Linked DNA regions of Homo sapiens: regions 2, 3, 4, 5, 6 and 7 are each reported to be linked to region 1. The links are microRNA targets in miRTarBase. Many come from high-throughput screens and were not tested one by one. Region 1 holds a microRNA gene; each other region holds the end of a gene's coding sequence.
Evidence for each region. The annotated mature microRNA hsa-miR-548p reads UAGCAAAAACUGCAGUUACUUU and lies in region 1 at 2,859-2,880, opposite strand. An mRNA with a match to its seed (bases 2 to 7 or 8) in the 3' UTR can be bound and repressed. Matches are read on the target gene's strand: a 7mer-m8 pairs with bases 2 to 8, a 7mer-A1 pairs with bases 2 to 7 and ends in A, and an 8mer does both.

Region 2: miRTarBase lists BTN3A3 as a target of hsa-miR-548p. The part of its 3' UTR that is shown has no 7-base or 8-base seed match.
Region 3: miRTarBase lists ESCO2 as a target of hsa-miR-548p. Seed matches in the 3' UTR shown: 7mer-m8 at 2,678-2,684.
Region 4: the mRNA of TMEM68 is a reported target of hsa-miR-548p. Seed matches in the 3' UTR shown: 7mer-m8 at 2,304-2,310.
Region 5: the mRNA of PXK is a reported target of hsa-miR-548p. Seed matches in the 3' UTR shown: 8mer at 3,211-3,218 and 7mer-A1 at 3,161-3,167.
Region 6: the mRNA of FOXP2 is a reported target of hsa-miR-548p. The part of its 3' UTR that is shown has no 7-base or 8-base seed match.
Region 7: miRTarBase lists CYB561 as a target of hsa-miR-548p. Seed matches in the 3' UTR shown: 7mer-m8 at 2,285-2,291.

What each region holds. Positions count from the first base shown.
Region 1 is chr5:100,813,640-100,817,639 of GRCh38, forward strand. It overlaps MIR548P (microRNA 548p), which reads right to left and starts at 2,926; the gene lies at 2,843-2,926. The region is part of intron 4 of ST8SIA4 (ST8 alpha-N-acetyl-neuraminide alpha-2,8-sialyltransferase 4); the gene reads right to left.
Region 2 is chr6:26,451,937-26,456,016 of GRCh38, reverse strand. BTN3A3 (butyrophilin subfamily 3 member A3) reads right to left here. Exons shown (of 11, transcript NM_006994.5): 11 at 2,602-4,080. The coding sequence ends at 3,606. Among named protein-coding and RNA genes, the nearest start is that of BTN2A1, 4.0 kb to the left of the region's middle.
Region 3 is chr8:27,802,987-27,807,066 of GRCh38, reverse strand. It overlaps ESCO2 (establishment of sister chromatid cohesion N-acetyltransferase 2), which reads right to left. Exons shown (of 11, transcript NM_001017420.3): 11 at 1,751-3,761. The coding sequence ends at 3,629. Among named protein-coding and RNA genes, the nearest start is that of ESCO2, 30 kb to the right of the region's middle.
Region 4 is chr8:55,736,919-55,740,998 of GRCh38, forward strand. TMEM68 (transmembrane protein 68) reads right to left here. Exons shown (of 8, transcript NM_001286657.2): 8 at 1,840-3,300. The coding sequence ends at 3,214. Among named protein-coding and RNA genes, the nearest start is that of TMEM68, 34 kb to the right of the region's middle.
Region 5 is chr3:58,424,552-58,428,631 of GRCh38, reverse strand. It overlaps PXK (PX domain containing serine/threonine kinase like), which reads right to left. Exons shown (of 18, transcript NM_017771.5): 18 at 2,505-3,880. The coding sequence ends at 3,672. PDHB (pyruvate dehydrogenase E1 subunit beta) reads left to right here. Exons shown (of 10, transcript NM_000925.4): 9 at 18-159; 10 at 453-1,002. The coding sequence ends at 598. Among named protein-coding and RNA genes, the nearest start is that of PDHB, 7.2 kb to the left of the region's middle.
Region 6 is chr7:114,689,286-114,693,365 of GRCh38, forward strand. It overlaps FOXP2 (forkhead box P2), which reads left to right. Exons shown (of 17, transcript NM_014491.4): 17 at 497-4,080. The coding sequence ends at 641. Among named protein-coding and RNA genes, the nearest start is that of MIR3666, 38 kb to the left of the region's middle. RefSeq lists an enhancer at 1-432.
Region 7 is chr17:63,431,011-63,435,090 of GRCh38, reverse strand. It overlaps CYB561 (cytochrome b561), which reads left to right. Exons shown (of 6, transcript NM_001915.4): 5 at 1-5; 6 at 497-2,787. The coding sequence ends at 689. Among named protein-coding and RNA genes, the nearest start is that of CYB561, 13 kb to the left of the region's middle. RefSeq lists a silencer at 1-10.

The DNA.
Region 1 (4,000 bases):
AACTTCTTTGAAGGCTTTGAAGAAACTATGATGTGGCCTGAAGCTCTCTGGGCTCTGAGAAAACAAGTGTTTTTTAACATGAAATAATGATTATAAGAAAGTATTGTGAATGTGATTTATGTGAAAGTATTGTGAATATGTATGGTTGCAGAGGTTAGGTGATAGAGTTGGTTAGTTAAAAAAAAACTATCTATTTATAAATTTTTAAAGTAAGCCAAGCAAATTCAAAATCAGTCAAAAAGAAAACAGTATTTCCATTAGGCAAAGTCAATGATTAGGAACAATTTGGCAGTATGAAGGTCATGCTGAATTATTTCTAAAGTGAGAAAAATGCTGCTATATTACTTGTATGAAACTCCAGACTTCTTACTATCAACAAATGCTTTCCATTTCCTAATTCTGGAGAGGTTTCCTCGAGGTTCATGTAACTATGGTTGCTCATTGACAAATACCAAAGCAATTTCTACATGCAATACAAATAAGTAACTACAACGTTAGAAATGCTGAAAGCAAAATTATTGGCTTTAAAATGGTGTCAGAGACGTGAAATCACTCCAAATTTTTTGATACAGGACATCTTATGAGACACCACAAATAGAATATCACTGAAGTGTCTTGAAAATGAAACTGTGATTGCAAAGCATCTTATTTGAAAATAATGAGTAGAGTGACTTTAAAAACTTTTTGTGGTCTTGTTCTAAATAAATTAATCTATGCAGTTAAAATACTGAATTAATTTAGCTTTAGAAATGCTAACAGAAAAATAAATTTTGTGATATTTGATTTGCAACAGTTTGAATAATTTCAAAGAAAAATATACCGTCAATATTTCAGGACATTTTTGAAGAAACAACACAAAATAAATGCCACTTATCCTATTGATTTCTAAAAAGTGTCACAGAAAGATACACCTTAATAAATGGCATCAATATGTAACAGATAAGTTGAAAAATACCTTAAATCAGGTCACTAAGTAGGCAATAAGTAATAACTTTCTAAAAATTTAAAAACACAGAACTGATCAAATACAGTCAATAAGACTGTATTTTGTGTTTATTATCAACCTAATGTTGTGTTTGAAATTGTATAGGCCAATCTAAATTATTGCAATTCGGTATTAAACCAGTAACAAATTCCACATGTGAAAAGGACAAGAATAGATCTTCTTTTTAATTCTGTCAGCATAATTGGTTAGATAATATTTATCAGCATCAAAAGCTAGAGCCCAGACTACAATTTTGAAATCCATACCTGAATGTATCTACCTATACACAATTTGATATTTGAAAACTGCAAATTTTTATGGAGTCTATCAAAAATAGAATATTAACTTGTGTTTCATCCTCATTAGGAAAAATATTAAATTGAAAATAATGCATTGATAAAATAATGGAATATTCACACTGTTTCAGTATAACATGTTCCAGCTTTTATCCCAACTGTACATGTTATGGTTTAAAATTTAGCAAAATTTTACATTCAAACAATAATTTAGTTTATATACATGTATTTCTTTCTATGTAAATTGATTTTTTTGAGTTACCAAATCCATGTAAGCTCCTTGTAGAAAATTTGAAGGAAAAAAAATCTAAGAAAAACATTACCTATAATCCATCCACATAAGGATAATTACTGCTATAACATGCAACATCCTTTTGCTTCTCTGGCTGATTTGGATCTTAATATATGTTACATTCACATATAGACATATACAAATTATTTTTCATCAGAGAGGTTATGTTTTATTTTTAATATTATTAATTTCCTTTCATCCTTCCTTTCTTCCTTCCTTCCTTCCTTCCTTCCCTCCTTTCTTCCTTCTTTCCTTCCCTTTTGTTTTATTATTATACTTTCTTCTGTTGTATGAAACATTCACTCTGGACTTTATGTGTTAATAGAACATTTATAACTTTTTAATAAATTTGATAGCCTCTGTAGATCTCACTACTCTCTCACATACAAAACAGAGCATGAAAGCTCTGTTTTGGCTAAGTGAGGTGTCTTATATACTCTTGCTCCAAAATATTAGTTCAATTTCTTACTTCAAACAAACTGAAAATTTGGAATGTCTCTACCCACCAAATCAGTGTGCTATAGAAGGCTATATTTATAGTCAGAAGACACAGCTTTGTATCTGTGATATGTTTATAAGTACTTGAGAAAGCTGCTTCACTTCTTTGGAGCCCAGTTAACAATATTTAACAAGAAAGGTTGTAATGCTGTAAAAGAGACAGTAAAGGTAAAAGAACATAAAGCTTGACATATAATAAGCAATACTACTTGGCTCTCAACATATCCCAAAACAATCATTCTTCAGTCCCACTCACAAACCCACTTCTCTCTTGGAACCTTCTGTGACTACTTATTGGCTGGACAATTGTGGTAACGTCGTTTAACCTCAATGGACATGTTTCCTTAATTCTGAAACAAACATTTAATTCTATGGCTTTGGGGTTTCCTCTATAAAATTCAATTGCAGTTTCAAATCTTCTCTCTCCGTGAAATTGTGTGAAACACTCTTATTCCTTGTCTCCTTCCTCCTCACCATTTTGTTCCCTTTCCTTCCTTCAGGTTGTAACACATTGCAAAGAAAAGAAGGTACCTAATAAATGCTTATTGATTTTAAATCCTGTAATATTTTAGATTTTATCTCATAATAAAAGCAGATAATAATCACCCGATGAGTCAAAATACCTGATTATTTCAAGCAACCACAGTTTTAGGAACAAAAATGTTATATTTAACAACGTTGATACTAAGGAGAGCTCACATTCAATATATTGACAAACAAGGAATATTGGTTTGTGTTTATATTTAAATAAAGAAGTCTAAAAGTTTAGAAGTATTACATTGGTGCAAAAGTAACTGCAGTTTTTGCTATTGAAAGTAATGACAAAAACTGCAATTAATTTTATACCAACCTAATAATGATAGTTTTTTCTCTTAAAATGTTATTCTTCTTCCAAAAATCAAATGTGACAATTTCTAGAAGAATTTGAATATCAAGGATGGAATCTCACTGTGCCAACAGTTGTAATTTAATGTTATATTATAAGCAAAGTTTCCATTAATGAGCCCAGAAATTCTTCTATCTGGAATGTGAGATGAAGTGTATAACAAAATATACCTTTGTATTCTTAATTAAGGAGTCTCCTCTATTTCTCCTCTCATATTTGTCTTCCAGTAACTGAGATTTGTGCTGCATTCCACTGGAAGTCTATGTCAAGGGTTAAAAAAATGTCTTTTGGTTCTTCCAGTCTGCAGTAATTTGAGATATTATAAAATAATTGGCTTTTTTTCTTTTTTTTTTTTTGAGACAGAGTCTCACTCTGTCGCTGTGTCACCCAGGCTGGAGTGCAATGGCGCAATCTTGGCTCACTGCAATCTCTGCCTCCCGGGTTGAAACTATTCTCCTGCTTAAGCCTCCCAAGTAGCTGGGATTACAGGCGCCCACTACAACACCCAGCTAATTTTTTTTTTTTTTTTTTTTTTTTTTTTTTTGTATTTTTGGTAGAGACTGGGTTTCACCATGTTGGCCAGGCTGGTCTCAAACTCCTGATCTCGTGATCCACCTGCCTCTGCATCCCAAAGTGCTAGGATTACAGGCATGAGCCACCGTGCCCAGCCAGATAATTGGCTTTCTATTAGTAATCTTTGCAGGACATATCTGCACATTCTCAACTCTAGAGTCACCCCAGAAACCTAATAGAGACCATTTATGATGACCTTATTTTTCCCATCAAAAATCACAGTATGGAGCAATAAATAAATGTATGTTTTTTGAGATTCCATCATTCACATTTGTCAATATGTCCATTCATTCTTATGAGGAGTATATGTGTGTCAGCTACATAACATGAAACTTAAAGCAGTCATCCGTGGACATATTGAAATAGAATATCTGCTGTTTTCTTCCCTACTGTTAAAATAGTCCTTTCATTGTATTCTAGTCTGCAGTATATTACATAAAGCACAAACAAGTTAATTCTGTTTTGAAATT
Region 2 (4,080 bases), not on the chromosome of region 1:
ACTGGGGTGTGCCCGGTTAGATAGTAACAACCTAACCCAATCATGCTCTGTAGTGGGAGGGATAGAGACAGGAAGGGTCACGTTGGCAAGGTTCTTTATGGACCTGCCAACCCTGGAAGAACCAGGATACAGGGTAAGCATTGATTTCCTTTTGCTTTACAATAAACTACAGTCTGTGAAGGTAATATAGCTGTGTCATCTCCAGCTATGGAGTACTCCCAGGGGAGGCCTAGACATGTTGACATACAGAAAATCCATTCCTACTCTGCCCTGTTCAAATTCTAGATTCCTGACTCACAGAATCACTGAACATATTATAATAGTTGCATAAGCTTCTGAATATTAGGACTACAAGCAATATTAACGAGTACATTTATCTTGCCTCAAAAGAACACATTTTTTCAAAAAGAAGAAATGATACTGGGCTTCTAAAAGAACCAAACGTGAGAAATTTGCCTAAACTCTTTCCATCTTGTAGCCTTCTCTCTGCTCATCTGCTTTGGTCTTCTCTGCAATCCACCATTGTTTAGTCCACACCATGAATGGAGCATTTCTTCCCACAGCTCCCATGCACATCTGCTACAGGAGTAACTAGCCACATGTCACTTGGTCCTCTGGCCTAGCCTGGGTCAGGTGTCCATCCCAGACCCAGTCCATGTGGTGAGGCTGCAGGGCCATGTGATGTGGGCATGTATTGGAAGAGAAGAGGTCACTAATGCTAAATGTGGTACAGCGAGGGCAGAGAGACCTTGAAAGGCATTCACTATATTCTCAGAGGCAGAGCCCTTATAACAGACGCTGTTGATGCCCCATCCCATATTCTCTTGGCCTATCACAGTTTGCCAATAGCTGAGGCACAGTTTTCTGCAAGGATGACAACCTTTCCACCTCCAGTGAGTATCTCCCTTCTCCTTTGCCTGTGAGCTTTATCACACCCGTGATAGTTGCTTTTCTGCAGTTACATAGCCCAATCTTAAAGTGCATTAGAATTAACACTCCCAGGCCAACCTTCAACCAATTCAAGCAAAGGAGGATGGGAAGTGGAGATAAAGTCCCAGGCCCTGTAGTCCTTAGGAAGATTCTGAGCTATATCACACATTTCATATGGTTTCTTAGAGAGTCCTAAAAGGGATTCAGCCAAGTTATCCACATGGTAACTGACTCATGAGTGAACCCTTTATCCCATTTGTCATGTAATTGGCTTTTTTTCATTTCTCAATTTGTTTCTGCACTTGTGTTTCCTGGAATCACTTCCCAAATCAGTGTGGTGAGCTGAATAGTGCTCCCCGCACCCACCCTTTGAGCTATATTCACTATGAAAGTTATGAAAAGAATGTATAACACAGTAAAATGAATTTTACACAGAATTAAGGTTATGGACCTTAAAATAGAGAGATTATTCTAAATTGTCTGGGTGATCTCAGTTTAATCATAGGAGTCTTTAAAAGTAAAAGGCAGACTGAGCGTGGTGGCTCATGCCTATAATCCCAGCACTTTGGGAGACCAAGGTGGGCAGATTGCTTGAGCTCAGGAGTTTGAGACCAGCCTGGGCAACATGGCAAGACCCTGTCTCTACAAGAAAATACCCAGGCATGGTGATGTGGCTCTGTGCTCCCAGCTGCTTGAGAAGCTAAGATGGGTGGATTGCTTGAGCCCAGGGGACAATGTGGTGAGCTGAGATCACGCCACTGCACTTCAGCCTGGGTGACAGAGCGAGTCCTTGTCAAAGAAGAAAAAAAAAAAAAAAAGAAAGGAAGGAAAAAAAGGAGAAGGTAAAAGAATCAGAGAGACACAATGGAGAAAAAGACCTAGGAGATGAGCCTCAATGCGCTGTTGCTGCTTTGAAGATACAGGAAGGGAGCTAGGAGCCAGAGTGTGGCAGCCTCTAGAAGTGGGTACAGCCCTTAGCTAAAAACCAGGGAACAACTGGGACGTCAGTCCTATAAATGAAAGGAACTGATTCTGCCAATAGTCTGAATAAGCAAGGAAACAGATTCTTCCTTAGAGACTCCAGAAAGGAATCCAGCCTGCAGACACCTTGATTCTAGCCTGGTGAGATCCCTGTGGGACTTCTGACTTCTCACCTACAGAACAGTGAGATAATAAATTTGTGTTGCTTTAAGTTCATGAATTTCTGAAGCCAGGCGCGGTGGCTCATACCTGTAATCCCAGCACTTTGGGAGGCCGAGGTGGGTGGATCACAAGGTCAGTAGATCGAGACCATCCTGGACAACATGGTGAAACCTCGTCTGCACTGAAAACACAAAAAATTAGCCAGGCGTGGTGGCACGCACCTGTAGTCCCAGCTACTCGGAAGGCTGAGGCAGGAGAATCACTTCAACCTGGGAGGTGGAGGTTGCAGTGAGCTGAGATCGTGCCACTGTACTCCAGCCTGGGAGTACAGTGGCACAATCCAATCTCAAAAAAAAAAAAATGTCTATACATTTCTGGTAATTCAGATGGCAACAACAGAAAATGCATCCAATAAGGGTCTTGTGAAAATGCTGCAGTGAGGTAAACTGAGACTGTGGTGAGTACAGTGGGTGTGCAGACTACTGTGCTGAGTAGACACCACAGTCTAGAAAAAGCCAAGCTGAGGAGTAAGCATTATTAACACATTTATTGAACAACTAGAACTTGACAACCACTTGCCAAGTAGAGGGGATACAGTGGTGAGCAATAATAGTGATGATAATGAGGAGCAGTTTTCCCTAGCAGGCAGCAGTTGAAAGGAATATGGGTTTAACATCCACCAATGACCAGGAGTGGACAGACCTATTTCCAGGAGACTGAGTCCATAGTGGGATTAAAAACATCCCTGTAATTCTTTTAGCTTCCTTGATCCAAATTTCCTATATCACAGAGAATCTCTAGGGTATTTGCTCTGCCTGGAAACCTTGATTGAAGGAAGGCTGGCTCTGGCTGCACAATCACTTATCACATTTGTTGGGTGGGAACATATCTGTGCCCCATGATTTATCAAGTGTGGCCTCTAGTCTCTTTCCAAGTCACATGTCATGTTGGTACTATGAGGTTATTCTCTCAACCAAGACACTCTGCAGAGCTAATCCAAGGAGTGCTGGGTCTAAGTCTCTGATATCAGCTGGGAAAGAGTCAATAGGGATGTCAACTCCACAAGCACTTAAAATGATCTCTACCCTGCAGCTGTCCTGGGAAGGAAACCTCAGGGCTACATGTGGGCTCTTCCTGTGGGAAAAAAAATCAGGCTGGAAAAGAACAGGCAATTAGCCAGGGACTAAGGCTGAACATCTCCCAACTGCACAAATTACTGTATGAGTTATGTAAGTTACTTCATGTTGCCCTGCCTCAGCTTCCATACTTGCAAAATATGACTACCCGACAGGGTGTTGTGAGGATTAAAGGAGTGACATCCACCAAAGCTTATAACACAGCACTAAGAACATTTTAAATTCTCTGTTAATGTTAGTTATTGCTGTTTAGATCCCAGCTCTGCTGTTCACTTGTCATGTCTACTTTGTAAAGTTAATTCACCTTTCTGCACCCCAGTTTCCTTATCTGTATAAGGGGACAATAAGGTGGTACGAAACTCAAAACAACTGTCATATGGAATAATGGAATGAATATCAGTAAAGTGCTTCAGTGCGTGCCTGTAGCTTATGGTTCTGATTGGTTGTTGCAGAAGGGGAGACCTCAGCTCCAGGGTGGGCAGGGAGAAGCAGAGATGTTACTTCAGCCTGAGGCTCCCCACTTTCATTAGCTAAGCCCGGGGTCAGTGGTGTCTCCAGGGAATGATCAGGCACTAGGTCAGGATCGGGGGAACTCTCTACTTCTTTTGGTATTGGGCAAATGGTCAGGGCAGTGGGCTCCAAGGTCAAAATTCTGAAAACAGGATATAGAGGCTCAGAGAAAGAGGCGTGCGGAAAGGTGTAGATATGAGATCCATCTGTGGCATTATAGAACGAGATCTCTCCAGTCTCATAGTCCAGGAAGATCCCCACTTTCCTAGGAGGCTCAGGAAGTTTCAGGTTGGTTCTGGGCTCAGTGAGAGCCCGATACTTATTCCCATCAGTCAGGCCCATAGTCCAGTATCCGTTCTCC
Region 3 (4,080 bases), not on the chromosome of region 1:
AGATATTATGTAGATAGAAATAGATAAATTAGAATTAATTAAGTTTAGAAAGATTGTGAATACAAAGTCAAAACAGAAAACTTGTAGTTTATATATCAGCAAACAAGATGTAACTTAAAACACTTTTCCCAATGGCTTAAAAAAAAGTAACAGCTGGGCATACTGGCTCATGCCTATAATCCCAGGACTTTGGGAGGCTGAAGTGGGTGGATTATTGGAGGTCAAGAGTTAAAGACCAGCCTGGCCAACATGGTAAAACCCCGTCTCTACTAAAAATACAAAATTAGCTGGGCGTGGTGGCATGCACCTGGAATCCCAGCTACTGGAGGCTGAGGCAGACAATAGCTTGAACCCGGGAGGTGGAGGTTGCAGTGAGCCAAGATAGTGCCAATGCACTCCAGCCTGGGCAACAAGAGCAAAACTCCGTCTAAAAAAAAAAAAAAAAAGAAAGTATCCAATACTTGAGCAAGTCTAAAAATCAGTCCTCCCAAATTGATCTATAGATCTGACACAATTCCAATAAAATCCCAACAGGCTTTTTTGTTGTTGGTAGCTTTTTGTGGAATAAATTGATTCTAAAATGTATATGGAAATGCAAAGTCCAATAATAGACCGAAGAAAAAAAGTGGGACCATGTACTAATACTATAGCAAACATTGATACTATAATTAACACAGTCTGGTATTAGCATAAATAGAACCTATATAAAATTAGTAAGAATACACAGGCAGAAATAGACATACACATATATTGGCACAATTTATGACAAAGACCCCCAGTAGAATGCCTGAAACCATGGACAGTACTCAACCTGATTGCCCTCAATAGGAATATGTTTCTGTGCATGTCTTCTGCCCACAAATTTAATGCCTTTTCCATCTTAACTGAGCACTTATCACCCCACTGTGGCTACTCTGAATGGTGGGCAATTTAAAACTTATGAATTCCTTACTTCTAGAAATTTCCATGCAATATTTTTGGTAACAAACTGTGGGAAGCGAAATTGCAGATAAGGGGGGATGTACAAGGTGATCTAGGCTCATCTTGTACATTCATTGCCCTATCCCTAGAATGAGCCATTTCTCCAAAGAGCCCCAGGTCCTTTTGTGGAAGAAGGTATTAGTAAGCAAGATCTGGCTGGGTGCCGTGGCTCACACCTATAATCCAGCACTTTGGGAGGCTGAAGTGGGAGGATCACTTCAGCTCAGGAGCTCAAGGGCCTCAGGAGCTTAAGGACTGGCTGGGCACCATGGTGACACTCTGTCTCTACTAAAAAAAGAATACAAAAATTAAGCAGACGTGGTGACACACACCTGTAGTCCCAGCTACTTAGGGAGCTCAGGCGGGAAGATCACTTGAACCTGGGAGGTCGAGGCTGCAGTGAGCCGTGTTTGTACCACTGCACTTCAGCCCAGGGCGGGGGAAAAAAAGAAAGAAACCAACCAAGATCTGGGTGGTAGGTGTGCTCATTGCCATTAGGGTATCATTGCTTTGAGACCATCTCAGTGCACTTGCTTCTTGTATGTGTTATACTTAAAAACAAAACAAACAAACAAACAAAAAACACCCAACCAAGACAACAGTATCAATAGCAAATCATGCTAAATATTTAAAATAGAAATAGTTCTTGAAATACAACATATCTAAGACATACTGAAGTGAGGCAAGATGCAAAATAACTGCATATGTATTTAGTTATTCTAAAGTAATAAGCACTAAACTCAAAGCAGGATTAAGGGAAGCCTCTTCTTTTTTTTTTTTTTTTTTTTTTTTTTTTTTGAGACGGAGTCTCGCTCTGTCGCCCAGGCCGGACTGCGGACTGCAGTGGCGCAATCTCGGCTCACTGCAAGCTCGCCTCCCGGGTTCACGCCATTCTCCTGCCTCAGCCTCCCGAGTAGCTGGGACTACAGGCGCCCGCCACCGCGCCCGGCTAATTTTTTGTATTTTTAGTAGAGACGGGGTTTCACCTTGTTAGCCAGGATGGTCTCGATCTCCTGACCTCATGATCCACCCGCCTCGGCCTCCCAAAGTGCTGGGATTACAGGCGTGAGCCACCGCGCCCGGCCGGGAAGCCTCTTCTTTTGGCAATCTCTATTTCTGTATTATCTGAATTTTATTTAACATATACTATTTTCATAATAAAATAATTAAAATCAGATTTAGTTGTATAAAATAAAGAATTTTAATTGATTCATAACAAAAGCATTAAGCAAACAAAATGTTAATTAAAAATTTTAAATAAAATATTTAAAAGAAATAAGTGCAGAAAATAGCATTAAAATGTTTGCATAATTACATACATTTTAATACTTCCACATTCTTTTGGGGACCCAGGCTTTTAAATTTTGGAAACATGTTAACTTACAGGCAAATAAAATGAATGCAGATGAATAGTTTCTACATATAATTACAATCTGGAAAACGACTTGCCTAGAGTCTTATTGCCAGTTAGCAGTTGAATGATTTTTCAGAATCAAAACAATTTGAACAATGTTTTGCTTTTTAAAGTATCCAAGAATTACACTAGAAAAATGTGTGAACATTTAAGTGTATTTACACAGTTCCATGGTCTCTCATCCACCAGCCTATGTATATTTACTAACCTTGGTTCTATTACCATACATTTTGTAAAGACTTTTGCCAGGTATCTCAGAACAAGTAAGGTGCATTTTAAACAAGCAAAAAATTAGAAAATGAAAACATCTAATCCAACTAGGCATTTTGTTAATGACATCAATTGTCAGTAACAGGTTCCCAAAGTAGTACTACCAATATTTCCATACAACAAAAATTAACTAAGTAATAGTGCAATTACTAAGTATAATTTTAATTAAATCTGATGACAGGTAAACATTTATTTTCAAAAAGATTGAACACTAAGCTATCAAATTCTGCTCTACAGAAATGCATATGGGATAATCTTATTCCTTACCATCTTGTTACAAATAAATTCTAAACATTTTCTAAAGATATTCAAACTGAGTTACTACAGACGAGTGCCTATCAAGTGAAGACTCTGTATAGAGAAGTCAGGAATTAGGCTGGGCACGGTGGCTCATGACTGTAATCCCAGCGTTTTGGGAGGATCGCTTGAGCCCAAAAGTTTCAGACCAGCCTGGGCAACACAGTGAGACCCATGCCTCTATTAAAAAAAAAAAAAAATTCAGGAATTCCCTTTACAAATTGGGCACAGAAATTACTTGCCCAAGTTTAAATTTGCCTGTTTGCTTCTGATGTGGCATTAGATAATCCTGGTCTAAGAGTGGGCTTTATAAAAGACCAGGTCACATTTCTAGAGAAAAATCACTTTGTATTTAATACTCTTACAAAGAGTCAGGTAATTTTCCAGTTATAGCTACAAAGTTTCATAATTAAACATTCAGAGTGCTAATCAGGGAATCACCCAAAGATTTTTCCTTTGAATCCCCAGATAATTTTCAACAAATTTATTCCTGACTTTTCAACTCATAAGGAACAAAACTGTGATATGTGTGTGTGCGTGTGTGTGTGTGTGTGTATGAGTGTGAGTCTCGGTATTTTTTATTTTGATATTAAATAGTTTGTATTTTATAATAAGGAGCTCTTTGAACTTATCCAGATAGTAACTCCTTTATAACTGAAATCAGCTTTAACTATTAAAATTATATACGAGGAAATTAGGGGTGTTGCAGTACTTGGTTGCAAATAACTTGCCATCTGGTGTTGGGTCAGAAAATGCTATTTCATCAGTGCTGAGAAAACAGCCAAACATGAAGCAATTCCTAAAAGAGAAGAAAAGATGATTTAATGATGGAAGCAACTTAACATTCTAATTAACATGAGCACAATTTAAGTAAATACTCTTGACTTAAATCAACCTTATTTTTAGTAAGTGAAAAAATGCCTTATATTTTAGAGACAGAAGTCTAATGATATCATTTCACAGATGGGAAAACTAAGGTCCAGAAAAAATTCTGATGAGAGGCAAAGGGAACCATCCACCTAACTCTAGGATATCCATGGTAAAGAGCAACTAATATAAGATCATATTGCTAGGCCAGGCGCAGTGGCACACGCCTGTAATCCCAGCACTTTGGGAGG
Region 4 (4,080 bases), not on the chromosome of region 1:
TTTACTATCAGATGATCTAGGAGAAAAAGTATAGATACATATGTGGAGACAGCGAGGGCAACAGGAGTGTGAAAAGAATAAAACAAATGTGACATGTTACCTTGGTGAATCTGGGTGAAGAGTGTATGGGAGTACTCTGCACTATAATTGCAACTTTTCTGTAAGCTTCGAATTGTTTCAGAATGAAAGTTTTTAAAAATGAGCAAGAAAAACTTCCCATAAGTGCGCCATGTTTACACTTCTGGAGAGAGGCTCTTCATACTTGCATCAGGTTCTGACTGTGAACACTCCTCAAAAAAGGGTCAAGACACATGAATAGAAGTGATAAGAAGGGAAAGAAAAATTATGAAAAAAAACTGATACACCTTCTTCCCATTACTTATATTTCTTTTGTTTTAATTTTTTTTTTTTTTTTTTTTTTTGAGACAGGGTGTCATTCTGTTGCTGAGGCTGGAGTGCAGTGGCACAATCATGGCTCACTGCAGCCCTGACCTCTCCAGGCTCAACCTTCCACCTCAGCCTCCCAGGTAGCTGTAACTGCAGGTGTGCACTACCATACCCAGCCGATTTTTGTGCGTTTTCTTGTAGAGACAGGATTTCACCCAGGCTGGTCTTGAATTCCTGGGCTCAAGTGACCCAGTTGCCTCAGCCTCCCAAAGTGTTAGGATGACAGGTGTGAGCCACTGAACCCAGCTTAATTTAAAAACAAAAAAATTTTATTTGATAAGAGGTCTTGTTATGTTGTCCAGGTGGTCTCAAACTCCTGGCCTCAAGCAATCCTCCCAAAGTGCTGGGATTATAGGTGTGTGCCATCATGCCCAGCCATATTTCTATATTTAGTCATATTCTCTGACTCTTATAAATGGGAATTAAACTCAAATAGCAAAGATAAAGATCTGAAGCAATGATGTTAGTCTGAATATCAGGGTTTTAAAAAAAGGTTTTAATTAAAGCAGTAAAACTTAAATATTGTAAAAATAATAGCTTTTGCCACATTAGCAATAAATGCTGTTCTTTCTTTAGTCTTTATTAATAGAACCATGGGCTTGCTCTATCACTCAGGCTGTGCAGTGGCACAATTGCGACTCACTGCAGCCTCGAACTCCTGGGCTCAAGCAATTCTCCCGCCTCAGCCTTCCAAGTAGCTGGGACTACAGGTTCATGACACCACTCCTGGCTAACTTCAGTCTTTAAAACTCAATAGTTGACCCAAAACAAATTTCTCATTCATTTTATATCATTTATTCATTCATTCTGAAATATTTCATCAATTTTGAACCAAACACTGCTCACTGGTGGGGGGAGGAAACTGCAAGTAATCATTAATTGACTCTTCTCATTGACCACAAAATTAAAATATATTTATTACACTGGAAAGTGAAGTTTCTTCATTGTGGCTAGATCAAAGAATATGATTATAGGTGAGAAATGTGTAAAGAGTACAACAAAAAAATCAATTTAAAATGACTATTTAGGGTGGGCGCAGTGGCTCACACCTGTAATCCCAGCACTTCGGGAGGCTGAGGTGGGCGGATCACTTGAGGTCAGCAGTTCAAGACCAGCCTGGCCAACATGGTAAAACCCTGTCTCTACTAAAAACACAAAAATTAGCCAGGTGTAGTGGTACACTCATGTAATCCCAGCTACTCAGGAGGCTCCTTCAGAAGACAGAAGGAGCATTGCTTGAACCTGGGAGGCGGAGGTTGCAGTGAGCCAAGATGGTGCCACTGCACTCCAGCCTGGGAAACAGACACAGCGAGACTCCATCTCAGAAAAAAAAAAAAAAAGATTTTTAAAATGTCACATGTAATTTCTCAAGAAAATTAACTGCAACTCAGGTTTATTTTCACATTGTTTAATTTTATGTACATTTCACATATCATAAATACACACAATACAAAAAGCTATACAAAAACCCTACTAATTCAACATTTAAAAAAGGGAGAGGGAGATACTGCATTTGATTTCTGACACTTTTCTGTTTAAATAATACTTAAATTCAGTTTTCAAGAAGACAACAAATTGAAAATCATTAATTTTTCAGAGGGCTTTGTGTTCACATAAATTCATCATTCAGGCTGGGCATGGTGGCTCACACCTGTAATCCCAGCAAGTTGGGAGGCTGAGGCAGGTGGATCACCTGAGGTCAGGAGTTCAAGACCAGCCTGGCCAACATGGCAAAACCCCATCTCTAAATAAAAACAAAACAAAACATAAATAAATTCATCATTCAAGTATATTTTTATTGAAGCAATAAACCACTTCACTGGCTGTAGAGTCAAACTGGGTAAGCCTCAATATTGAGCAAAAGTAGAGAACTCTTGCTTTCCTCAGCCTAGAATCAGCTTCTAACACACGAAATGCAGAGCACAACAGTGATTTTTAAGCTGGCATTATTAAGACCACAGTATAGGGCTGACAATGCACAGCACACCCTATATTGTTTGCCTATAGACTCTTGTTAAAAATATCATACTAAAAATAATAATTAGAAATTTTATTTTTCCTAATTTTTTATTCAATTTAAAAAATAATACATCTTTTTCATTGTGCTTGGCAACTGGACATGACATAATTTAAACACACAATGGAGAAAATATATACATAACTGCTAAAGGATTTTGACATTGTTTAAATTAATTATTTTATTATTTTGGTTCAACAGTTATCAATCACAGTAAATATAAATAACAAAATAATATCATTCATCATACGATCATGTTTTTAAAAAGTGAATTGTTGAGGCACAAAAACATTACGTGACTTGCCCAAGGTCATGAAGGGAATGAGGGGCAGACAACAGCATGTTTTTTCTAACTTAAACAACTATACTAACCCCTAGCTTATACCATCTTTCAAAATCAGCTCAGGGCGACAGATACAGAAATTTAACGCATTATCCAGGAATGTTTGTTTAACCTAAACTGCTGTTATTAATAAACTTAAGAATCTATATGTTTAGCATAAATTGTTAGGAATTTACAAATAAGACATCTTTTTCTGAATTACTAGGTGTGTAATTTGTTAGTATTTGACACAATTGCAAAAACAAAATTGACTATTTTAAAGAAACGAATTCTGTGAAAGATGCTTATTAACATGATTTTTTTAAAAAATACTAATTATAGGACCTACAAAATTCAGAAGACAGTACCTTAGATACAAACATTTAATATAAATGTACTAAATCATCTTCTAGTTGACCCTTTGTTATCAATGAAAACGTTCTAACAAAGCACTCATAATGTTTCCTGGTATTCTTTGGTGCTTATCAATCAAAGCTTGAACAGCATTCTTCGTCTATTAAGAAAACAAAAGAAAAGCTATTGTTAGTAGATCTTAATATAGACTGATTTATCTCCCATTACCCCTCAGAATTAATGATTTCCTTCTCAGTACACCTGAAGCTTATATATTTCTCTTTTTTATAGAGATGGGGTTTCACTATGTTTCCCAGGCTGTTCTCGAACTCCTGGGGCTCAAGCAATTCTCCCACCTTGGCCTTCCAATGTGCTGGGATTACAGGCATGGGCCACTGTGCCTGGCTGCAGCATATTTCTTATACTTATTTTATTAAGCCTTCAATTATAGTTGTTGTCCACGTGTCTATTTTCTATATCAGACTGTAAGCTCCTTAAGATACATCTTAGAATTTCTCCAGCATTAAGCACAGCAACACCTTGCACATGATAAACACTAAAGGGGACTTAAAGAGGAAAAAAAATAGAAAAATTTCGAGTAGGCAAATGGAAGACTTAGTCCTTTCCAGCTATTAGTAAATTCTAATGTATATTTTCTTTTATCACCATACATACTGAACAATTATATCAGGGTCTCACTGTGTTGCTCAGGCTGGTCTCGAACTCCTGGACTCAAGGGATCCTCCTGCCTTGGCCTCCCAAAGTGCTGGGATTACAGGCATGAGTCATCATGAACTATGTATTTACATACATATATACTTCCTTTTCTAGACTTTAACCTTTAAAGAAAATAAACACTAGGCCAAAGATGTATTATAAAAATACGCCCCTTTGGCTGGGCGTGGTGGCTCACACCTGTAATCCCAGCACTTTGGGAGGC
Region 5 (4,080 bases), not on the chromosome of region 1:
TTATATTACCTGTTTAGGTGATAAATATGCGTACCATTAGACCAATGGACATGGAAACCATAGAAGCCAGTGTCATGAAGACAAATCATCTTGTAACTGTGGAAGGAGGCTGGCCACAGTTTGGAGTAGGAGCTGAAATCTGTGCCAGGATCATGGAAGGTATTTCAAAGAAACTGGTTCTAGAATACAGTCAAGCTATAGTAAACATCATGTACCTGAATACGTACAGGATAAAGAGATTGAAAGCTAGGAGTGGCCAAACGACTTCAACTTTAAACTTGTAAGTTTGGCATTTCTCTTCAGGCAGATATTTTTAAAAGCAAATCCAGAAAGCGGTTCCCCATAATTAGCATTCCTTACATTTTCTCTTCCTGGTCAGCCACACCTCTGTGCCAAGGTGGTAGTGCCCAGCTGGCATTTGCACTCTCTCAGTTGAGCCTTCCTTCTCCTAGGTCCTGCGTTCAATTTCCTGGATGCTCCTGCTGTTCGTGTCACTGGTGCTGATGTCCCTATGCCTTATGCAAAGATTCTAGAGGACAACTCTATACCTCAGGTCAAAGACATCATATTTGCAATAAAGAAAACATTAAATATTTAGTTTGGACTTGAATATCAAGTCGTTGAAATTTATTTGAAATACTTGCTGGCACTGCACCTGGATTTGTACTGCAAGACCTGACTATTCATAACGGAAAACGATTTCTAAAGCAACAGCAGGTATTTTTGTACAGGGAAGTTTAAATGTGTTTGTGTATGGAAAACTCTCCACTCTCCTCCCCTAGATGCCATGCTTCCTTTTGTCTGTTACGGTTGCCATGTTCTTTGAATAACAAATTATATAACATTTTATCCTCTCTCACCACAAGGACAAAGTATGGATGTGGCAGAGTCCTCATGAAAGATGTATCCAAACAAGATAACTTATATGTATAAAATTAAAGCATATAATATACATTTACTGTTAGTTTGTTTTGATAAGGAATAAAGGAATTTCTAACATGACTAATTTTTTTTTTTTTGAGACAATGTTTGGCTCTGTTCCCCAAGCTGGAGTGTGATGGCACAATCTTGGCTCACTGCAGCCTCCACCTCCCAGGTTCAAGTGATTCTCCTGCCTCAGCCTCAGTAGGAAATTAGCCACCACATCCGGCTAATTTTGGTGTTTTTAGTAGAGGTGGGGTTTCACCATGTTGGCCAGGCTGGTCTTGAACACCTGACCTCAGGTGATCCACCTGCCTTGGCCCTCCCAAACTGCTGGGATTACAGGCATGAGCCACCACACCTGGCCATGACTATTGTATTTTTATATTGAAAGAATTGGCTGGGCTGGGCGTGGTGGCTCATGCCTGTAATCCCAGTACTTTGGGAGGCCAAGGCGGGCAGAACATGATGTCAGGAGATCAAGACCATCCTGGCTAACATGGTGAAACCCTGTCTACTAAAGCCGGGCATGGTGGCATGCGCCTGTAGACCCAGCTGCTCGGGAGGCTGAGGCAGGATAATTGCTTGAACCCAGGAGGCGGAGGTTGCAGTGAGCAGAGATGGCGCCACTGTACTCCAGCCTGGACAACAGAGCAAGACTCCGTCTCAAAAAAAAGAATTGGCTGGGTGTGGTGGCTCAGACATGTAATCCTAGCACTTTGGGAGGCCGAGGTGGGTGGATCCCTTGAGTGTAGGAGTTCAGGACCAGCCTGGGGAACATGGCAAAACCCCATCTCTACAAAGAAAAGATAGATAGAAAAAAAAAAAGTCAATGTGGGTAGAAAACTTGAAATTCTATTTATTAAGAAATTAGTGCTGCCAGGCCACAGTAGCTCATGCCTATAATCCCAGCACTTTGGGAGGCTGAGGCAGGGATTGCTTGAGCCCAGGAGTTTGAGACCAGCCTGGGGCAACGTTGCAAAAACCCTGCCTACAAAAACAAAACAAAAAAAACAAAACAAAAAACCCAGGTATCTGGTGGTGTGCCTATAGGAGGATTGCTTGAGCCCTGGGAGGTCAAGGCTGCAGTGAGCTGTGATTGGGTCACTGCACTCCAGCCTGAGTGAAAGAGCGAAACCCTGTCTTAAAAATAACAACAAAAGAAATTAGTTCCATGTGGAAAATAAGCTGATACTGTACAAGACCATTACCTGTTTGTATTCATATATCTGAACTATCCAGAATAGTCAGCAAAACTGACTTCAGAAGGACTCAGGCCTCACAAGCCTCCATCAGGTAATCACCTAGGTTGCATCACACTTGAAACAGGAACTTCTCCACAGACTCTCCAAATGCCTAATTCTAATAGCATTCTCTTTAAAATTATGGCAAAGTTTATATCAGTTGTTTTTCCCATTTCCAAAGATCAGATATTCTGTCAAATACTGCCCTCCAGAAGCTGAGATGGAAAAGATGGGTTTAAATTAGTTAGAGAAGCATATAGGTGGTACCTAATTTAAGTAGCAAGGCAGGATTTTTAGTTCTTAGAGGAAAAGTGAGACACAAAAGAATAAGAGACAGGATAGGTAGGAAGGAAACCTTAGACTGTGTGAATCTATTCTTTGCTAACAACAGACGCTACAAAAAGTTCTCATTTGAAATATCTTGTCAAGCTACAGACAACACGTTTTCTTGACATGATTTTAATAAAAAATACAGCTGACATAACAGATTACATGAAACTATACACAATGACATTCTCTGCATAGTAACCAACACTGATGTGTGTACTTGAATTTTTAAATGGATTATTTATAATCCTTTAAAGTGCAATTTATTGAAAGGTTTAAGCAAATCAGGATAAAGGATCTTTCTAATAAATGACTAACATTAAAGAGATGCTATATTGATATATTTAGATAAATCTTTCAAAAATCATAATTGATTTCTATAGATGCCAAATTTACTTCTGTTGTAACAATGACCTGCCCCCCTCAAACCCCAAACTTAATTGCTGAGGATTAAGAAGATCCTCTAATTGGCAAGAGCTTTTTCTGATGTTAATATTTTTGTCTGTTTCAATACATCTAACTAAAAAGAACTATGGGTCTAGAGTAGTTGCTTTAGCAGCCCTGAGTTCTATAACCACAATGGTATTCCTGTTAGAACTTAAGAGAATGTTGTGAACGTTCCCCATTCTATTTGAGGAGAAAACAAAGAACTCAGTTGCTTTCTGATTTAGCAAAGTAACTATGCTTTGGGCTATAGTGTTAATGTCTAAGATAAAGGTAGCAAAAATTGGAGTTATCTAAGAATCAGAAAATGCTTTAGAGAAATGAACTGTAAGAGGAATGTTTCTAGGAGCTGTCTGATGGGGTAGAAGGGATTGCAACACAAAGGCCATTTACTGCTGTGATTGAATATTGTCATTGTTTTTCTGTCTATTTCCTTTAGTTGGTGAAAATATTTCAATATGCTGCTGTCCCAAAAGCCTGGCCATTAGAGGATAAACAAGACTCCTTTACAGGGTTAATAAAGGAGCAAGATCTTAAGGGAGCAATGCCAGCCTAACTTTATTCTGCTTAAAGAATTATTTCTCTCGAAAAGCTGCTTACATGAGCATCTGCAAAATAGTACTGTTTGTGGCTGTACTGGCTCAGCAATTACTTTCCCAGGAAGAGGGTAGTTTGGGGGGTAGGGGTGAGTAGGAATAAAAAAGAACTTTTCCCTCCAAGTGTAAACAGGAAGCTTCAGCCGATCTTCGGAGCACTGTGATCACAGGTTTTGGCTTTCCTCAAAGTTCCTTTTTGGAAATTCTGGATGGAGCTGAGCAAGGCCCCTCGGCTCATGCCATTCACAGCCTGAGACGAGAGCTGGGCAGGTGCCTCGGTGCTCGCAGGAGGCAAGGGAGCTGCTGGTGGTGGTGGAGGTGGAGGAGGTGGAGGTAATGCAGATATCCCTGTGGAGGAAAAGGGGGACAATCAGTATTCACCTCCACAGCTGCCCTGCACACACGCTGCTGCTCAGTCCTGAGCACAACGGACTGGTGAGAGTCCACATGTTTTTCTCAGAGGGACCAACATACCTAGTACTGTATGAGTTCTTAAAATACTAAAGAAAGCTAGAAGCATCAAAGGGGAATTAAAAGTTGCCATGTTT
Region 6 (4,080 bases), not on the chromosome of region 1:
TTCAACAAACACCCAATCTAGCTTATACTGGAGAGTTTAAAAAAAAATAGAAATAAAATTGTTAAACTCAAGTCTGAAATATTTAGAAATAACAGTTGTTATCTTAATTGCTAGCAAAAAACTGAATGGTAAAAGTGTTTTCATTTGTTGATTAATTATTTGTTTACTATTCCTTTACTACCACTCCTTGATTATCATGTTATAACAAATACTAACAAAACATTTCATTCAGAAAGAATGCTGAGAAACGGATGTTTTACCTAAACAGCACAGCATGTGGGAGTCCATGCTCACATTACTCTGAATCCCTGCCTCCACAGTTCTACTGTAAAGTATCATGTCTCTAACCAGCTCACGCAATCAATCAGATGCCCTTTTAAGAAAGACAATGTTGTGTCTTCTTGCCTTTTTTCAGTTGACCTCTTCACTGCAAAGTTGGCCAAACTCTGTTTGTTGCTTACTTAGTAAAATTTTGGTGTATCTACATGTTTTTCAGACATTCAATCCACGTCAAGGAAGAGCCAGTGATTGCAGAGGATGAAGACTGCCCAATGTCCTTAGTGACAACAGCTAATCACAGTCCAGAATTAGAAGACGACAGAGAGATTGAAGAAGAGCCTTTATCTGAAGATCTGGAATGAGAACTGACTTGTGAAACCTCAGCGTGAAGGGACATATCACTGACCTTCATAACCACTCCACAACCATGAATATTTGACAAATTTTTACTGTGACTATTTATTAAGCATGGATAAAGGAGACAGCCCTAAAGGAACTTACTAAGCCAGCCCTTTGGGATTCAGTACCAACAGGCAAATTGCTTGTTTTCTTCTTCTTCTTCTTCTTTTTTTTTTTTTTTTTAGAAAAAAAGACAAAAACTGATTTTCTTGAAAAAAAAAAATGAACTGTTCTTTCTATAATGGCTTTGCCCATTTAAAAAATGTGGCTCTTAAGGGTTCATGAAATGACTGAATATGAGGATACATGTCCTGTAGAAAGCAAATGCGCCTCATATACTGCCAAAAATAGTGTTAGTTTCATTAATGTGAATTTTCCAGCATTCAGTAGTTGTAATGTTAGAAACAATTGCTGGTCAAGTTCAACTTGTTGCTATTGTTTTTAATTTGCACAGGAGTAGTATCAGAAATTAGTGTCACTGCTTGTATCTAGCTGAATTTTAAACAACAGAACATTAGTTTTTTATGTTGGTGCCACCAACTGTAAATGACATAAGTTAGTTATTACAAAACACAGTAATTAGACTGTTGCAACCATCTAAAACCTTAGGCTTCCAGTCTGTGCTGTTAGTGTTAAGATGTAAAGTGCAATCCTAAGCTAACATTATCTGTGCAAGCACCATAGAAACATTTGCATATCTGCATAGATCTTACAACTGTACTCTTTACCTCCTTGTGATAAAGCTTTGTCTACCTGCAAACACAGTCAAAGGCTACAGCTGCAAACCAAAGCCAACTCTAACCATGGCCAAGAGCTCAAGGACAGAAGCAGCCACATGCTTTGGTCAGCCTTCTGTAACTTCAATTAGTACAAAGGAACCTTTTCCATGAACTACCTGCTGTTTTCTGATGACCTCTGGGATCTTTTCATTTAGCCCTAAACAAAGAAACAAATATGACAAAAACCACAACTAAAAAATGTTAATTCAGTCACAGAGTAATCTTCTGAGGCCAAAAGTCCATCTAAATGCAATGAAGATTTGCTTTCATTAAAGACAGAGGTGAGGACAAAATCCGCAGTGGAAGTTATGATATGCTAGAAAGCAACAAATGTGGATCACTGACCAAAACGATTATGTACTTGATGCAAATGCAGATTGCATATTGTTATATATATAGTACTTTGTGTTTTTGTTTTCCCTCATTCAGTCAGTTATTTTCAGTGGTGAATACATGTTGTTAGAAGATGTCTTGTATGGTCTTAATCTTTGTTGTGTACTATTTTTTTATAGTCTTAAGTTATAATGAAAAAACAAAAAGTAGGAACCAAACATAAAAGGTCTAGTAAAGCCAAAAATTAATTTCATATTGATTTTAAAGTGATCTAGCTGAGTTTTTACACTGAAAGCAAAGATTATAGCAATTGTAGTCCATGGTATTTATTTTCAGTCAAACCAAAGTTACATATAATTCTGCCTCTGCTTATACGGGATATTAACACTAACAATACACTCCCTTCAAAGACTTGCACAGGCCAAATTGTTGGAATGCTGGTTTTCTTGACAATTCCAAACCCCAAAACTATGATAATGAGTTATGATGTAGTTGAAAATAGCATAGTCAGATGTTTGCTTAAAACCTAGAAACTTAACATGTTGCTTTTCATGTGCTGTGCCAAGTCTTGATAATACTTTTTCCCCCAACCAAGGGACCTCATAACCTGATTATGGTTATTGCTTTACAAACAGTTTTGACAGAAGGTGGCTGCTAGAGCTTAACATACGTTCCCGTTCCATGTGATGGAACCGGTTCTTGCAAACTAAGCTCATCATTGATTCTTTGCTGAAGTCAGCAAATAGAGTTAGAGAGATACCCAGTCATCTATCACACCAAATAAAAGGACATAACGGCTTTCAAAAGGGTTTTCCCACTTACCCAAAAGGCTTTCTGAAAGCTTCTACCTCTGCAAAAAAAAAAAAAGAAAAAAAAAAAAAGAAAAACATTAGAACAATTATGGCAGATTGCATGAAACGTGAGAACGTCACAGTAACTGCTACTTTTCATTATGTTTGTCTTTGGGTCATGATCAACGAACCGGAAGTTTACAATATGGTATTAAAAGAAAGATGGGTATGGTGAAAGATGGTTTTCAGTCATCTAGGATCCTACTGTAAGGATTATCTGAAAGGAAAAATGGGTCTTTCAGGTGCATGTTCAAAAGGCTTTGAGGGACTGGAAGTAACTGCGAGAGTTGTACCATCAGAAGGGTGGCCTAAGACTACAATGCTAAAGTATGCATACCTCAGTTAGAAAACTTTTGAAAGGAAGTCTCAGCCACAGAATGCATATACCTGTAGAGTTTTGCATGGGTTTTATATGAATACAATTTTAAAAAATAGCTGCTTGCACATTATACCAGAAAAACCTCCAAAACTGCAATTGCTTTGAAAATAGATTTTAGGTTTTTTGGAGTTTCCTGAAATGCTTGGTCTGTATTTTGATAATTGTGCATATTATGTAAAAATGTTGGTGGACCCATAAATGACCAGACTTTTTCTAAGAAAAATGTTGCTTTAATGCATTTCATGAATTTTTACTCTTATATCATTGCTTGCTAGTAATAGCAAATCTGCTTTTCTGCATCTGCTTTGCGTAGCTATTGTAAGGCTTTGAACTAATGTATGTATTTATTGCTTGAACTTCTGTGCATACCTTATAAAGCATAATGTCTGACAATTTAAATGGCTCATGTATTCTTGCTTCTATCATAAGCTGATTATGGGGACTATGATCTTTTGTATACAGCAAATTTTAAACTGTAGCACAAACATCTGTTTATGTATTGGTGGAATATACCTGTTTTATTTATCTTTTTTGAGGTAAACTAATTTTTGATACTTTTCATTACTGTGTACTATGTTCATACTTTGAATTCTCTGACGTTAGAAGTCATGGTTGAGAATTGTAACAGCTGTTATTCGTTCTGTATTCATGGCTTTCACTGCTGAATAAAATAAAGGACCAAACCTAGGATTTGAAAGAAAACTGTCTACCTCTAACACCAGGGAGTTATCAGATTTTATTTTACATAGTTTTAGTCTACAAAGACACAATTGCTTAAACCTAGTGGGCTTAAGGCTTATATTCTATGTGGTTGGATTCGTGGCACAGTTGTACTATTTGAAAATCAATTAAAATTTTATGTGAATGTTACAAGTATTTGGTAGAATTACCACTAACTGGGTTTTCTTTAGATAACTCAGATATGGAGAAAATGTCATCAGCATTCTGTGTCTACAGCTGCTTAACTTCATAAGAATGCATTTCTTTGTGATTAGGGAATCGAAGAATAGTCAGCTAGGAATAGAGCTACAGAAGTACACTTACATAAACCATCCTGGAC
Region 7 (4,080 bases), not on the chromosome of region 1:
CTCGGGTGAGTGTCCTGGGTGGGAGAGGGCAGGGCCTGGGCCACCCTTGCACAGACCTCACCCTGCCTTCAGCTTCCCCAGCTGTGGCTTCCTGAGCCGCCTCTCGTGGCGTCACAACTGGTGGCTGTAGTTATGCTTGCTAAGATTTGGGTGCTTGGGGCTTGGCTTTGGTTAGCTTTCTTGATTTTACCCTTTCAAAGAAACTTCTGGGCTATGGGCACCCTATTTATTCCCACCACGCAGCAGGATCTGCAGGACAACTGCTTAGAGCTAGAATATTGATCTAGGTTTTTACATTGCCCATCTCTTTTTGTCTGTGAGCCATAGCTGGAGATTGCTGGTTGGGGGCGGGGGGATGGTTGTTCTCTTCAGGCAGGGCAGGGAGGCAGGGGCTGGTGCTGGAATCCCCATGGCATCTTTAAGGCCCAGGATACAAAGGGCATTTGGCCTAATTGTGACCCCTTGGGCAGCTTCTCCCTTCCTCTCACCCCTGCAGGGGCAAGTATAGCGCATTTGAGCCCGAGGGTGTCCTGGCCAACGTGCTGGGCCTGCTGCTGGCCTGCTTCGGTGGGGCGGTGCTCTACATCTTGACCCGGGCCGACTGGAAGCGGCCTTCCCAGGCGGAAGAGCAGGCCCTCTCCATGGACTTCAAGACGCTGACGGAGGGAGATAGCCCCGGCTCCCAGTGATGCGCCCGGCCGGCCCTGGGGGTTCGCGGGGTGTCTTCTTGCCTGCCCCTGCTGAGGCGTCTTCAGGACTGCAGGCTCCGGAGAGTGGCTCTGGCAGCAGGCGGGCGCGTGGGTGCAGCTGCATCTGTTTGAGTGCTGCTTTCTGGGGTCAGGTCTCCGCCTCCTCTGCTTCTCCTTTCTCCGCTGCTATAGACCAGTTCATTGTGTGTGGCTCCCGTGTCTCTGTTGCCCCCTTCAGTGCAGAAGGCTTTGGGTAGGACTTCGGGTGTTCGGTCCTGGTCGCAGAGCACAGATCTTTAAAGAAGCGAGAGAGGAGGCCCCACCCTCCTGGCAGCAGATGCCTGGGGCAAGGCCAGGGGAAACTGGGGGGGCCTCAGGGACAGGCCTGGAAAGGCCACGATGGCTGCTGAATTCAAACAAGGAGTCCCTCCAGCCTGAATAACACGTGGCACAAATGGGCCCGGCCTTTGGCAGAGGAGCAAGTGATATGATGTGTAAAGTATGTTGGTGGTGAAAGCAAGGTTCCCCAGGAGAGGGGAGGGACTGGCCCCTGGGAAGCTCTGAGATGAGGCTGTGGCCCAGCTGTAGTCCTGACCTTCCTCTTCTTTAACCCTTTAGCCCTAGGATGGCTTTGGTGGGAGAGGGGATAGAAGCCCATGACTTCAGACAGACTTTCTCTTGGCAGATGCAGGCGGGCCTCCTCCCAGGCTGCTCCAGACATGGGGGTTGGGGATGGGGGGCACCTTGCAGCCCCTTCCTGCTGGGGCTCCCTCCTTGTAGCACCCCCCTTGCGGCTCAGCTCTGGTTTCCTCTCCCAGGCTCACCCAGGCTCTGCTCAGGCTGGGAGGCAGAGGGCACAAACCTTATAATTTTTTAAATGAAAAACCGCTGCTGCTGGCTGTGGCTAGAGCCCCCTGGGGCTGCTGGAGCTGCTGCCTCTGTTCTGGAGGACGAGCCTTCTCCTTATCTGCTGCCCATCTTTCCAGGAAGTCAGGATGGAGTCAGAACAACTACAGTCATCCCCCGTGGTGTCTGCACATCACTCCAGCCCCATAAAGAGTGTCATGTTAGCTGAGTCACCATTTGGCTTCGGCCTGGAAATAGTGTGATTAGAACACTGATCGTGTGCGAGGCCAGGAGATCAAGACCATCCTGACTAACAAACACAGTGAAACCCCGTCTCTACTAAAAATACAAAAAAATTAGCCAGGCGTGGTGGTGGGCGCCTGTAGTCCCAGCTACTTGGGAGGCTGAGGCAGGAGAATGGTGTGAACCCGGGAGATGGCGCTTGCAGTGAGCTGAGATTGCACTCCAGCCTGGGCGACAGGCTCAAAAAAGAAAAAAAAAAGAACACCGATCATGTGCTTCTTGGATCTGGTGACTGTTCTCTCCCTGTTTTCCTTTCTTTTTGGGTGTTTGAGGAGCATGGCTTAGCTTGAGACACACACAGACACTGTGTACTTCAGTGAAGGGCTTAATATACAGTTTCCAAACCTGACGACTCTTCTTCTTGTAATGGCTGCCCTTTTCCTACCTGAGGCCGTCTTAGAGAAAGGGGCCAGTCTCCTCTAATGCTCAGATTTCCCATAGTTGGCTTTTGCTGTGTCTCCTGCCTCAGGCAGTGTCATTTCTGGGAGCAGGTGGTTGTAGTCCAGGCCCCTCCCCAGCAGGGTCTGCCCAGGCTCCTTCGAGCCCCTTTCCCCGCCTCCTCTCAGCCTGTCCGGATGACAGTGTTCGCCTCCTGTTTAGACTGTACACTCTTCAGGGGTAGGGGTGCCGTCAGTTCTTCAATCAGCTGGCACACACTTGTATAGTGAAATGTTTACATGTGGGAAAACTCCGCCTTAGACAAACTACCAAAGTACAATCGTGTCTCTCTCTAGCCGGAATGCTACAGAGAGAAATGGAACCTTAGATTTGCAACAAAAGTCTGTAAACTGGTCTGTTTGCCAAAGTGAACACTGGATGACTAAGGAGCTGAAGAAGGCCCCCAGAAGCGGATTTGTGGTGGGTTATTTTATTTTGCCTGTGGCCAATCTTCTGTGAAATACAATGTGCTGTTGGTGCAACAGATGATTCAATAAATGTCTACAGCAGACCTCTCGCCTGTTATCTTCCTTTACTGTGGTAATAAAAGGAGCCGGAGCTTTTAGCAGCCAGACACATGACGTTAGCTCTAGGCCTGAGAGAAATTGAATATCCGCAGGCTGGGCACAGAAGGTAAAGCGATTAGTGATATTGATCATGGCCTAGGGGCTGAAAAGGCCCAGCGGTTGTCCAGTCTCGACCCAGCAGAGGCAGTGTTGTTTCCACATGGTTAGATAAGCCCTTTCCTCTCAGCCTGAGAGGGTGGCCTGGATGGTGGAGCTGCAAGAGCCTGATAAGAGCCTTGGCAAGGAAGGTCCCCCAGTGTTTAATGGACCCCTTTCCCTTTGAAATCAGTCTTTTTGATCCTTAAGAAGAGGAGCAAAGCTTTTGGAACGAGCTGAGATTCCACTTTAGATCCACGTACGTGGCTCAGGCAGAAGGTGAGTTTTTGGCAAATTTGGGTGGGATCGTACTGTGCGCTTTGTGCCTTGTCACTTAAAGCAGTGGCCGCCAACCTTTTTGGCAGCAGGAACAGGTTTTGTGGAAGACAATTTTTCCACAGACCAGGGCTGGGGGTGGGGGATAGTTTTGGGATGATTCAAGCACGTTACATTTATTATGCATTTTTATATTATTACATTGTAACATATAATGAAATAATTATACAACTTACCATAATGTAGAATCAATGGGAGCCCTGAGCTTGTTTTCCTGAAACTAGACAGTCTCATCTGGGGGTGATGGGAGACAGTGACAGATCATTCGATTCTCCTAAGGAGCATGCAACCTAGATCCCTCGCATGCGTAGTTCATAATTAATAGGGTCTGCACTCCTATGAGAATCTAATGCTGCAGCTGATCTGACAGGAGGCGGAGCTCAGGTGGTCATGCTCACCCGCTGCTGCTCACCTCCTACTGTGCAGCCAGGTTCTAACAGCCACAGACCCATACTGGTCTGTGGCCCTGGGGCTGGGGACCTCTGACTTACTTAAAGCAATTTAAAAACTCACCAGAGCTCACTATTTAAAGGGACCCAACAGCAAATCCTCTAATAAGGTAACAGGAGTCCCTGCTTCCCCGCGTTGGTCTCAACTTTGTCTTCTGCATTGTAGCTGGTCTCTAACGTGTAGGAGCCAGAACGGAGAGGTCTTTCCTTAGGGCACCTGTAGAGTCCCTCCTGAATCAAGGCTTCCATGTGGACCTTTATTTTTATTTTATTTTTTTGAGACGGAGTTTCGCTCTTGTTGCCCAGGCTGGAGTGCAATGGCGCAATCTCAGCTCACTGCAACCTCCGCCTCCTGGG